Homo sapiens: one gene and its partners. The protein of the gene in region 1 purifies or fractionates together with the protein of each later gene. This does not show direct contact. Each region holds a gene or a part of one and is shown in the gene's direction. Other genes may lie near its edges. The genes, in order: CKAP2, MCM10 and MAP7D1.

Region 1 (3,651 bases):
ATGGAATGAAATTACTAGGGAATAAGTAGAGATAATATGGATTCAGACAGTGACTCTCAACCACTTATTTAAATAAAGAATCCAACAAGGTCAGGGGTTTATAATACTCTTAATAGGAAGAAAAGAAAATTCTAAAACGCTTCATGTGGCTTAAGTACTACATTTATTCCTTTCAGAAAACAGATGTTGGCTGGGTGCAGTGGCTCATGCCTGTAATCCCAGCACTTTGGGAGGCTGAGGCGGGTGTATCACTTGAGGTCAAGAGTTCTAGACCAGCCTGGCCAACATGGTGAAACCCCGTCTCTACTAAAAATATAAAAATTAGCCGGGTGTGGTGTCAGGCGCCTGTAATTCCGGGGAGGGCCGAGGCAGAAGAATCGCTTGAACCTGGGAGGCGGAGGTTGCAGTGAGCCAAGATCAGGCCATCGCACTCCAGCCTGGGTGACAAGAGCGAGACTTTGTCTCAAAAAAAAAAAAAAGGAAAACAGATGTCAATTTAAATGTTATCACCTCAGCAGTGAATCATTAAATAAGACAACCAACCTGTGTTGCAGCTTTTCAGAATTAAACAGTTATATTTTACAATCTCTAAAGTATAGATATCCTAAGACTCATTTCCGATAACCCTTCTGAGGGCAGTTTTATAATAAGACAGAATAGGATTAAGTCTCCCCACTGGACAGGTGAGTAAGATGGGTTCTTCTTGTCATCCTGAGTTTTGTTTTGTTAGCTGGCAGTTAGCTACTAAGATACCCTGTTAAGTGGCACATTTTGATCTTCCTTCACCATTGTTCAAAATGTATAGTACAGGTTGTGTCAAAGTTCTGTTCCTTCTCCAAGCTGACAGAACAAATAGATATGAAAGGCAATGTAAGCAAAATTATTAACTACTAAATTATGTCAAATGTAAAATATATATATATATATTTTGTTTTGTTTTGTTTTTTTGAGACGGAGCCTTGCTCTGTCGCCTAGGCTATAGTGCAGTGGCGCGATCTCAGCTCACTGCAACCTCTGCCTCGTGGGTTCAAGCGATTCTCCTGCCTCAGCCTCCAGGGTAGCTGGGATTACAAGCATTTGCCACCATGCCTGGCCAATATTTTTGATTTTAGTAGAGACAGGGTTTCGCCGTGTTGGCCAGGCTGGTCTCAAACTCCTGACCTGAGGTGATCTGCCCACCTTCTCTACCCAGAGTGCTAGGATTACAGGTGTGACCCACTGTTCCTGGCCTCATTTTTTTTTTCAGAGAATGAGAGATCACGCATTTTAATGTGATCTCTGAACTTAGGATCTGTCTTAAAATCAATGGCATGTCTAATTGACCGTATTTTTTCCTATCGTTATAGTACACAAAATTGTTAAAATCACTTGCTAAGAGATGCTCACAGTCTGCCTTAGCCAGTTTATAGCTGTAAAAATAAGTTAAGTCAGTTTCTTGAGGAGGGATTTTCTTTGCAATACCGCCTAGAAACTAACGTTCTTTTTTTTGAGAGATGATCTCATTCTGTGTCACTCAGCCTCTAGTGCAGTGACGGGATCTTGGCCCACTGCCTCAACTCCCAGGCTCAAGCAGTCCTCCACCCCAGCCTCCCAAGTAGCTGGGACTATGGCACCCACCACCACACCCAACTAATTTTTTATTTTTTTGTAGAGATGGGGTTTTGCCGTGTTGCCCAGGCTGCTCTCGAACTCCTGAGCTCAAGTAATCCCCCCACCTCGGCCTCCCAAAGTGCTGCTATTACAGGCATGAGCCACCACAACCAGCAGTGCATATTCTTAATGTATCCTAATATAAATTAAGCTGTGAATGGCATATGGTAATTTTTGGATCACTTCTGGGAGGGCTCTTTAATAAAAGTATTTTCAATGTAGTACATCTGTTACTAAGTACTTAAAACTAACCCAAGGAGGTATTACTTACTAAAGGTTATTTGAAGACTTGTTTGAATGACTTGAGAATGATTTGAAATAAGATTATTAAGTATTTACAAATTCTATGGGCAGAGAGTGTTAGGACTTTTAGAAAATATCTTTAAATTCCTCAGCCATTTGTTTACACTATTTTTTTTTGAGACAGAGTCTCTCTCTGTCACCCAGGCTGGAGTGCAGTGGCTCGATCTTGGCTCACTGCGAACTCCGCCTCCCGGGTTCATGCCATTCTCCTTCCTCAGCCTCCCTAGTAGCTGGGACTACAGGACTACAAGCGCCCGCCACCATGCCCGGCTAATTTTTTGTATTTTTAGTAGAGACGGGGTTTCACTGTGTTAGTCAGGATGGTCTCGATCTCCTGACCTCGTGATCTGCCCACCTCGGCCTCCCAAAGTGCTGGGATTACAGGCATGAGCCACCGCGCCTGGCCGCTTAGGACAAATTTCAACTCAGGTCTTTTTTAAATTTAAAATTAGTAAGTCAGTTAATTGTTAACATTGCCCTCTTCTTCCTCCCCAAAAGGAAGCCTCCTTGGTACAGGATTGATTGATCATTTTGTTTGTTTGTTTTTAAGTAGTAGAGATCAGAGAGTTGTGACATCTGAGGACCAAGTTCAAGAAGGGACTAAAGTGCTGAAACTTAAAACAAAAATGGTAAGATGTGGACATAGCACTCTTAAACTGTCCCCTTTTCCATTTTGCCTTTCCTAAACACTTTTCTTAAATAATTCTTTCAGGCTGATAAAGAAAACATGAAGAGACCTGCAGAGAGCAAAAATAATACAGTGGTGGGGAAACATTGTATTCCTTTAAAACCTTCAAATGAACTAACCAATTCAACTGTAGTAATTGACACACATAAACCTAAGGATAGTAATCAAACTCCGCATTTGTTACTAACTGAAGATGATCCCCAAAGTCAACATATGACATTAAGCCAGGCATTTCACCTTAAAAACAATAGTAAAAAGAAACAAATGACTACAGAAAAACAAAAGCAAGATGCTAACATGCCCAAGAAACCTGTGCTTGGATCTTATCGTGGCCAGATTGTTCAGTCTAAGATTAATTCATTTAGAAAACCTCTACAAGTCAAAGATGAGAGTTCTGCAGCAACAAAGAAACTTTCAGCCACTATACCTAAAGCCACAAAACCTCAGCCTGTAAACACCAGCAGTGTAACAGTGAAAAGTAATAGATCCTCCAATATGACTGCCACTACTAAATTTGTGAGCACTACATCTCAGAACACACAACTTGTGCGACCTCCTATTAGAAGTCATCACAGTAATACCCGGGACACTGTGAAACAAGGCATCAGTAGAACTTCTGCCAATGTTACAATCCGGAAAGGGCCTCATGAAAAAGAACTATTACAATCAAAAACAGCTTTATCTAGTGTCAAAACCAGTTCTTCTCAAGGTATAATAAGAAATAAGACTCTATCAAGATCCATAGCATCTGAAGTTATAGCCAGGCCTGCTTCATTGTCTAATGATAAACTGATGGAAAAGTCAGAGCCCGTTGACCAGCGAAGACATACTGCAGGAAAAGCAATTGTTGATAGTAGATCAGCTCAGCCCAAAGAAACCTCGGAAGAGAGAAAGTAAGTAGATATAATTTTCTTTATTACATTAGTTTTCAATAAAGTACTGTTTGTAGATTTGGATTATAATTTCCTTGACTGCATTAGAATTTTCTTTCATGGTTTCTCTTCTGTCAT
Region 2 (2,677 bases), on another chromosome or scaffold:
TGAGGGAGGGAGCCAGGAAGCCGGGCTAGTTCATCACTTTACCAGGAGCTGGCTTGCCAATTTTTCACAATCTAGATTATAATTTTTAAGTAGTTATTTATATATTGATACTTGACTTTTTTCCAAACTAGATGACTAAAAATGTCATTATAGCAAGAGCTTATGGAAAACGTTAGAAAAATTAAAAAAAATTCTGTTTATTAAGTACAGGGCACAAATGGAAGGGCATGATGCCTTTCAGCCTCCAGATGGCACTGTGATTGTAAGAACCATGTTTTTTCTGGACTTTTTGTCAGTTGCTTTTTTTTTTTTCCTTCTTTTTTTGAGACAGGGTCTCACTCTGTCATCCAGGCAGGAGTGCAGTGCCATGATCATAGCCCATTGCAGCCTTGAACTCATGGGCTCAAGCGATCCTTCTGCTTCTGCCTCCTGAGTAGCTGGGACTACAGGTGTGCACCACTACACCCAGCTAATTTTTTTAATTTACTTTTTTTTATAGAGACAAGGTCTCACTATGTTGTCCAGGCTGGTTTCAAACTCCTGGGCTCAAGTGGGCTCAGCTGCCCAAAGTGCTGGGATTGCAGGCCTGAGCCACCATGCTTGGCTAGTTCTTGATCTAGAACAGAAGGCAGCACACATTGCCTGTAAAATGTCAGTGGTGAATATATTAGGCTTTGTGGGCCAGATGATCTGTCACAACCACACGGCTCTGCTGGTGCAGCCTGAAAGCAACCATAGATAATACACAGGCAACTGGGCACGGCTGTGTTCAAATAAAACTTTATTTATAAAAACTGGTGATGTGCTGGATTGGGGTTGTAGTTTGCTGACTCCTAACTAGAATAGTGATTTTTTTTTTCTCACAATTTTATCATTGATCGACATATAGGCTACCAGAGTTCTCTTCATTGATACTGAACCAGTCTCTAGAGGTGGAAGGTGATGGTTGGGAGGTTGTAAGGGCTAAGGCCACTGGCGTGCCACCTTTCAGGGCAGAAATTGTGATATGGTTTGGCTGTGTCCCCACCCAGATCTCATCTTGAATGGTAGCTCCCATAATTCCCACAAGTTGAGAGAGGGACTCAGTGGGAGGTAATTGAATCATGGGGCAGGTCTTTCCCGGGCTGTTCTCATGAAAACAAATAAGTCTCATGAGATCTGATGGTTTTATAAAGGAGAGTTCCCTGCACACACTGTCTTGCCTGCCGCCATGTAAGACATGCCTTTGCTCTTCCTTCGTCTTCCACCATGATTGTGAGGCCTCCCCAGCCATGTGGAACTGAGTCCATTAAACTTCTTTCCTTTATAAATTACCCAGTCTTGGGTATGTCTTTACTAGCAGCATGAGAACAGACTAATGAGAACGAGTAGACTCTAAGCTAGGTAAGGGGAAGGGGAGACAGGCAGAGCATCCCCACCCCACCCCAACCCTCTGAAATCCAAGTAAGCAGGCAGACATACTTCCTTAGCTTTATTATATGTCTTCTCTCTTTCTCTCTCTTTTTCCCAGAGTAAACTTCATAGGAAATAAGTTTTCACCATAGTGTTCACATCCCTTCTCAGGGTGGAAGTCACCCACCATTTTAAAAACTAGAGCAAGAAGGGCTGGACTTGGTGGCTCATGCCTGTAATTCCAGCAGTTTGGGAGGCTGAGGCAGATGGAACACTTGAGCCCAGGAGTTCAAGACCAGCCTGGGCAACATAGTGAGACTCCCCATCTCTACAGAAATTTAAAAATGAGCTGGGCATGGTGGTGTACACCTTTGGTCCCAGCTACTCAAGAGGCTGAGGCAGGAGGATCACTTGATCCCTGAAGATCAAGGCTGCTGCAGTGAGCTGTGATCGCACTACTGCACTCCAGCCTGGGCCACAGAGTGAACCCTGTCTCTAAAAAAAAATAAAAACAAAACAAGAGTCCCTGGGCCCTTTGAATAAAAAGAGAGTAAAGAGGCTGGGCACAGTGGCTCACGCCCGTAATCCCAGCACTTTGGGAGGCTGAGGCAGGCAGATCACTTGTGCCCAGGAGTTTGAGGCCAGCGTGGGCAACATAGCAAAATCCCATCTCTCCAAAAAAAAAAAAAAAAGGAAAAGAAAAGAAAGTGAGTAAAGGCTTTTGGGTTATAAAGAGAAAGGGAGAAGGATGATCCAGACTAGAAAGAAGATTATTCCTTTCTTAGCTCAACCTTTTTGCTCCAAAAAAAAGAGGAGGAAGGGGCCAAACATAGATTATCCTGCACCAGAGGGCCAGCTCCTTAAATCTGAGTCTCATCCCAACCACCATCATTTGTAAAAACCAAGGGTGCATTCATTACCTGCAGTGCGTGGATCCCTGTGGTGCCATCATTATCATTTGAAGCTCCATCTCTGAAGCCTCTAGCTTTGTAAGGACCTACAGACCACTTCCCAAGTCATTGCAGGTTTATTTTTGTCGCATTTGAGCATAACCTCAGATTTGGCATACAATACGAATGTCACCTTGAACAGCTTCTCCTTGAATGGGGGCCTACTCTCCCCAGGTGCAGTGAGCACCGTCGTCTTTACATGAGTGGGCCTACACCACCCTGCTGAGTAAATCCATCTGTTCTGTTTCAGTAACTGTGGCCTCTACAAATGGGAACGGGACGGAATGCTAAAGGTATGCCATTTGCGTACTAATTTTTGACTCCTTTTAGTGACC
Region 3 (3,651 bases), on another chromosome or scaffold:
CTGGCTCGAGTGGCCGCGCAGGTGGGGACAGGCAGCCTGGAACTGGGGTACGCGGGCGCTGCTGACCTCTACTCTCCTCTTCCGTTCCTCCTTCCCTGCCAGGTGCAGAAAAAGGAGAAGAAGGACAAGGAGCGGGAAAACGAGAAGGAGAAGAGTGCCCTAGCCCGGGAGCGCAGCCTCAAGAAGCGCCAGTCGCTGCCCGCCTCCCCACGTGCCCGCCTCTCTGCCAGCACCGCCTCTGAGCTCAGGTGGGCGCGGGCGGTGCGAGGGACCCTGCCCCTCACCGGGTCATTTATTCATCACCCACAAATATTTGTTGGGCAACCACCTCTAGAATGCAACTTCCCTGAGGGCAGATTCTCTCTGTTTTGTTTGAGACAGGATCTCCCTCTGTCACCCAGGCTGGAGTGCAGTGGCACAATCTCGGCTCACTGCAGCCTTGACCTCCCAGGCTCAGGCTATCCTCCCACCTCAGCCTTCCAAGTGGCTGGGGCTACAGGCGCGCCACCACGCTCGGCTAATTTTTTGTATTTTTGGTAGAGTGGGGGTTTCGCTACGTTGTCCAGGCTGATCTTGAACTCTTGAGCTTAGGTGATCCACCCGCCTTGGCCTCCCAAAGTGCTGGGATTACATGTGTGAGTGTAAGCCACCCCGCCCAGCCTCCATTTTTCTTTTTGTTCGTTTTTGTTTTTGTTTTTTTAAGTGTTTTGGTTACTGAAGTACCCCAACACCTAAAATAGTGCCTGGCACCTGGTAACCACTCAGTGAATACCTACTGAAGGGCCAGGGTAGTGCCTCACGCCCGTAATCCCAGCACTTTGGGAGGCCAAGGGGAGGATTGCTTGAGCCCAGGAGGTCGAGGCTGTAGTGAGCTATGTATGATGATGCCACTGCACTCCAGCCTGGGGGTCAGCCAGATTCTGTCTTAAAAACAACAACAACAACAACAACAAAACCTGCTGAATGAATGGACCTGTCAGGTAGCACTCAGGGTGCTGAGGACACGTTGCTGAGCTAACCCAAGCATGGTTTTTTCTCTTATTAAGCTTACAGGCTATTGGCGGGGGACATACAATAATCAAAGAATCCCACAGAAACATGTCATTACAAACTGGGGTGTATGCTCTAAAAGGGAATGGTGTGTTTCTGTGAGAGCAAGGGGGCGGGGGGCGGCGCTGATGTAGCCTGGGGGAGGGGGCACCTCCCAGAGGAAGGAACAAGTTCTCAGCGTGTGGGTGTGTGTGTCTCCTAACCCTTCCCTTTTCCCTTTTCTCTTAGCCCCAAATCCAAGGCCAGGCCATCCTCTCCCTCCACATCCTGGCACAGGCCTGCCTCCCCCTGCCCCAGCCCAGGGCCAGGCCACACTCTGCCTCCAAAGCCACCGTCCCCCCGAGGCACCACTGCATCCCCCAAGGGGCGGGTTCGGAGGAAGGAGGAGGCAAAGGAGAGCCCCAGCGCCGCAGGGCCCGAGGACAAGAGCCAGAGCAAGCGCAGGGCCAGTAACGAGAAGGAGTCAGCAGCCCCAGCCTCACCGGCACCTTCGCCGGCGCCCTCGCCCACCCCAGCCCCGCCCCAGAAGGAGCAGCCCCCCGCGGAGACCCCTACAGGTAGGAATGAAGAGAGGGGAGGGGTGGGCCGAGCGAGAGAAGCCAGCTTCTCCTGTGTGGGGGTGTGGGCCGCCAGAGATGCCTGAGGACTGGGAGTGGGACATGGAAAGAGGAGACTCCTGCCCTCAGCAGTCCCAGGCCCAGAACACAGGCCGCTGGGAGATGACGGCGGTGTCTGCGTGGGTGTGCTGACGCCTGATCCCGGATCCCCCTCCAGACGCTGCTGTCTTGACCTCACCCCCAGCCCCTGCTCCCCCGGTGACCCCTAGCAAACCAATGGCCGGCACCACAGACCGAGAAGAAGCCACTCGGCTCTTGGCTGAGAAGCGGCGCCAGGCCCGGGAGCAGCGGGAGCGCGAGGAGCAGGAGCGGAGGCTGCAGGCAGAAAGGGACAAGTGAGTGCGCCTCGGGGACTGAGGGGGCCCTCGTGGGCGCTGGAGAAGAAGCAGAGGCCGAGCCTGAGCCGTTTGCTCCGTCCCCCAGGCGAATGCGAGAGGAGCAGCTGGCACGGGAGGCCGAGGCCCGGGCGGAGCGGGAGGCGGAGGCCCGGAGGCGGGAGGAGCAGGAGGCACGAGAGAAGGCGCAGGCCGAGCAGGAGGAGCAGGAGCGGCTGCAGAAGCAGGTGCCCCCGGCGGGCGGGAAGCGGCTGGGCGCGGGCGCCGCGGGCCGGGAGGGAAGGCTGGAGTCAAGTGCCCCACGCTCATGGGGGTCTTTGGCAGAAAGAGGAGGCCGAAGCTCGGTCGCGGGAAGAGGCGGAGCGGCAGCGTCTGGAGCGGGAAAAGCACTTCCAGCAGCAGGAGCAAGAGCGGCAAGAGCGCAGAAAGGTGTGCGGACCTGGGCGGGGATTTGTGGGCGGGGCCTGGGCAGGGCGGGCCAGGTGGGCGGGGCCTGGGCTTAGAGCGGACAGGACGGGAAAGCGCTGGGGCAAATTCCAGTTCCTGTCCTGGAGAGGGCTGCTATGAGCTGGGAGGCCCTAAGACTCCGAGGCCGGGTCTGGCTGGTGGGAGGTTTAGGATTAGGGGCGGGGCTCGAGCCTAACTGATCTGCGGCCTCCAAACAGCGTCTGGAGGAGATCATGAAGAGGACTCGGAAGTCAGAAGTTTCTGAAACCAAGGTCAGAATTCCCCCGAAGGGCAGTGCTGGGCGTGGGGGGCAGGGTGTGAAAAGGAGGCTGCGGAAAGGCATCCATGGCCACGGAGAGCGAGGCTGTCAGGGAGGCCGCTGCGGCCCGGGCAAGGGGAGGGCCGAACTCAGTCCGAAGTGGCTGGGGCCGGCTGTCCCTTGAGCCTGACTGCTCTTCCTCTTCAAAGCAGAAGCAGGACAGCAAGGAGGCCAACGCCAACGGTTCCAGCCCAGGTAAAGCCCCCATTCCTCTCGCCTCCCTTCCCTTTGCCATCCTCCTCCTCCTCCATCCTCACCTCTCTTGCCAGCCCCTGGCTGATGGCCCCTCTTTCCCTGTGACAGAGCCTGTGAAAGCTGTGGAGGCTCGGTCCCCAGGGCTGCAGAAGGAGGCTGTGCAGAAAGAGGAGCCCATCCCACAGGAGCCTCAGTGGAGGTACCAGCTTCCAATCCCAGGGTCCCTGAGCAGGGAGGCAGACTGCAGCTGGAGCTGCGGGGTGGCCTGGGCTTTCCTGGGAGGTGAGGTGCTGAGCCTTGGCCTCTGCATCCACAGTCTCCCAAGCAAGGAGTTGCCAGCGTCCCTGGTGAATGGCCTGCAGCCTCTCCCAGCACACCAGGAGAATGGCTTCTCCACCAACGGACCCTCTGGGGACAAGAGTCTGAGCCGAACACCAGAGACACTCCTGCCCTTTGCAGAGGCAGAAGCCTTCCTCAAGAAAGCTGTGGTGCAGTCCCCGCAGGTCACAGGTAGATCTCCTGATTCCTGGACCCAGCTCCATTCCTCCCAGCAGCCTTCCCTGTACTCCTCAGCCCTGCCTTCTCTTCTGGCTCTGCCAGGCACCCTCTCCTGCTCCACCCTGAAGACCCCCAGCTATCTGGGCTTGAGTGCTGTTTGCCCTGACTGTTTCCCTTCCTGTTTTTCCCC

What was found.
Region 2: the proteins of CKAP2 (region 1) and MCM10 purify together in Homo sapiens (affinity purification with mass spectrometry; one large-scale study listed by BioGRID and IntAct). This does not show direct contact.
Region 3: the proteins of CKAP2 (region 1) and MAP7D1 purify together in Homo sapiens (affinity purification with mass spectrometry; one large-scale study listed by BioGRID and IntAct). This does not show direct contact.

The regions. Positions count from the first base shown.
Region 1 is NC_000013.11:52,458,393-52,462,043, forward strand, and holds part of CKAP2 (cytoskeleton-associated protein 2), read left to right. Parts: intron 1-2,503; coding exon of another isoform or gene 2,504-2,506; coding exon 2,507-2,582; intron 2,583-2,665; coding exon 2,666-3,534; intron 3,535-3,651. UniProt on the Homo sapiens protein: Possesses microtubule stabilizing properties. Involved in regulating aneuploidy, cell cycling, and cell death in a p53/TP53-dependent manner.
Region 2 is NC_000010.11:13,206,499-13,209,175, forward strand, and holds part of MCM10 (protein MCM10 homolog), read left to right. Parts: intron 1-2,592; coding exon 2,593-2,635; intron 2,636-2,677. UniProt on the Homo sapiens protein: Acts as a replication initiation factor that brings together the MCM2-7 helicase and the DNA polymerase alpha/primase complex in order to initiate DNA replication. Additionally, plays a role in preventing DNA damage during replication.
Region 3 is NC_000001.11:36,176,595-36,180,245, forward strand, and holds part of MAP7D1 (MAP7 domain-containing protein 1), read left to right. Parts: intron 1-102; coding exon 103-248; intron 249-1,278; coding exon 1,279-1,607; intron 1,608-1,824; coding exon 1,825-2,002; intron 2,003-2,090; coding exon 2,091-2,229; intron 2,230-2,326; coding exon 2,327-2,431; intron 2,432-2,667; coding exon 2,668-2,721; intron 2,722-2,917; coding exon of another isoform or gene 2,918-2,920; coding exon 2,921-2,963; intron 2,964-3,071; coding exon 3,072-3,162; intron 3,163-3,279; coding exon 3,280-3,473; intron 3,474-3,651. UniProt on the Homo sapiens protein: Microtubule-stabilizing protein involved in the control of cell motility and neurite outgrowth. Facilitate microtubule stabilization through the maintenance of acetylated stable microtubules.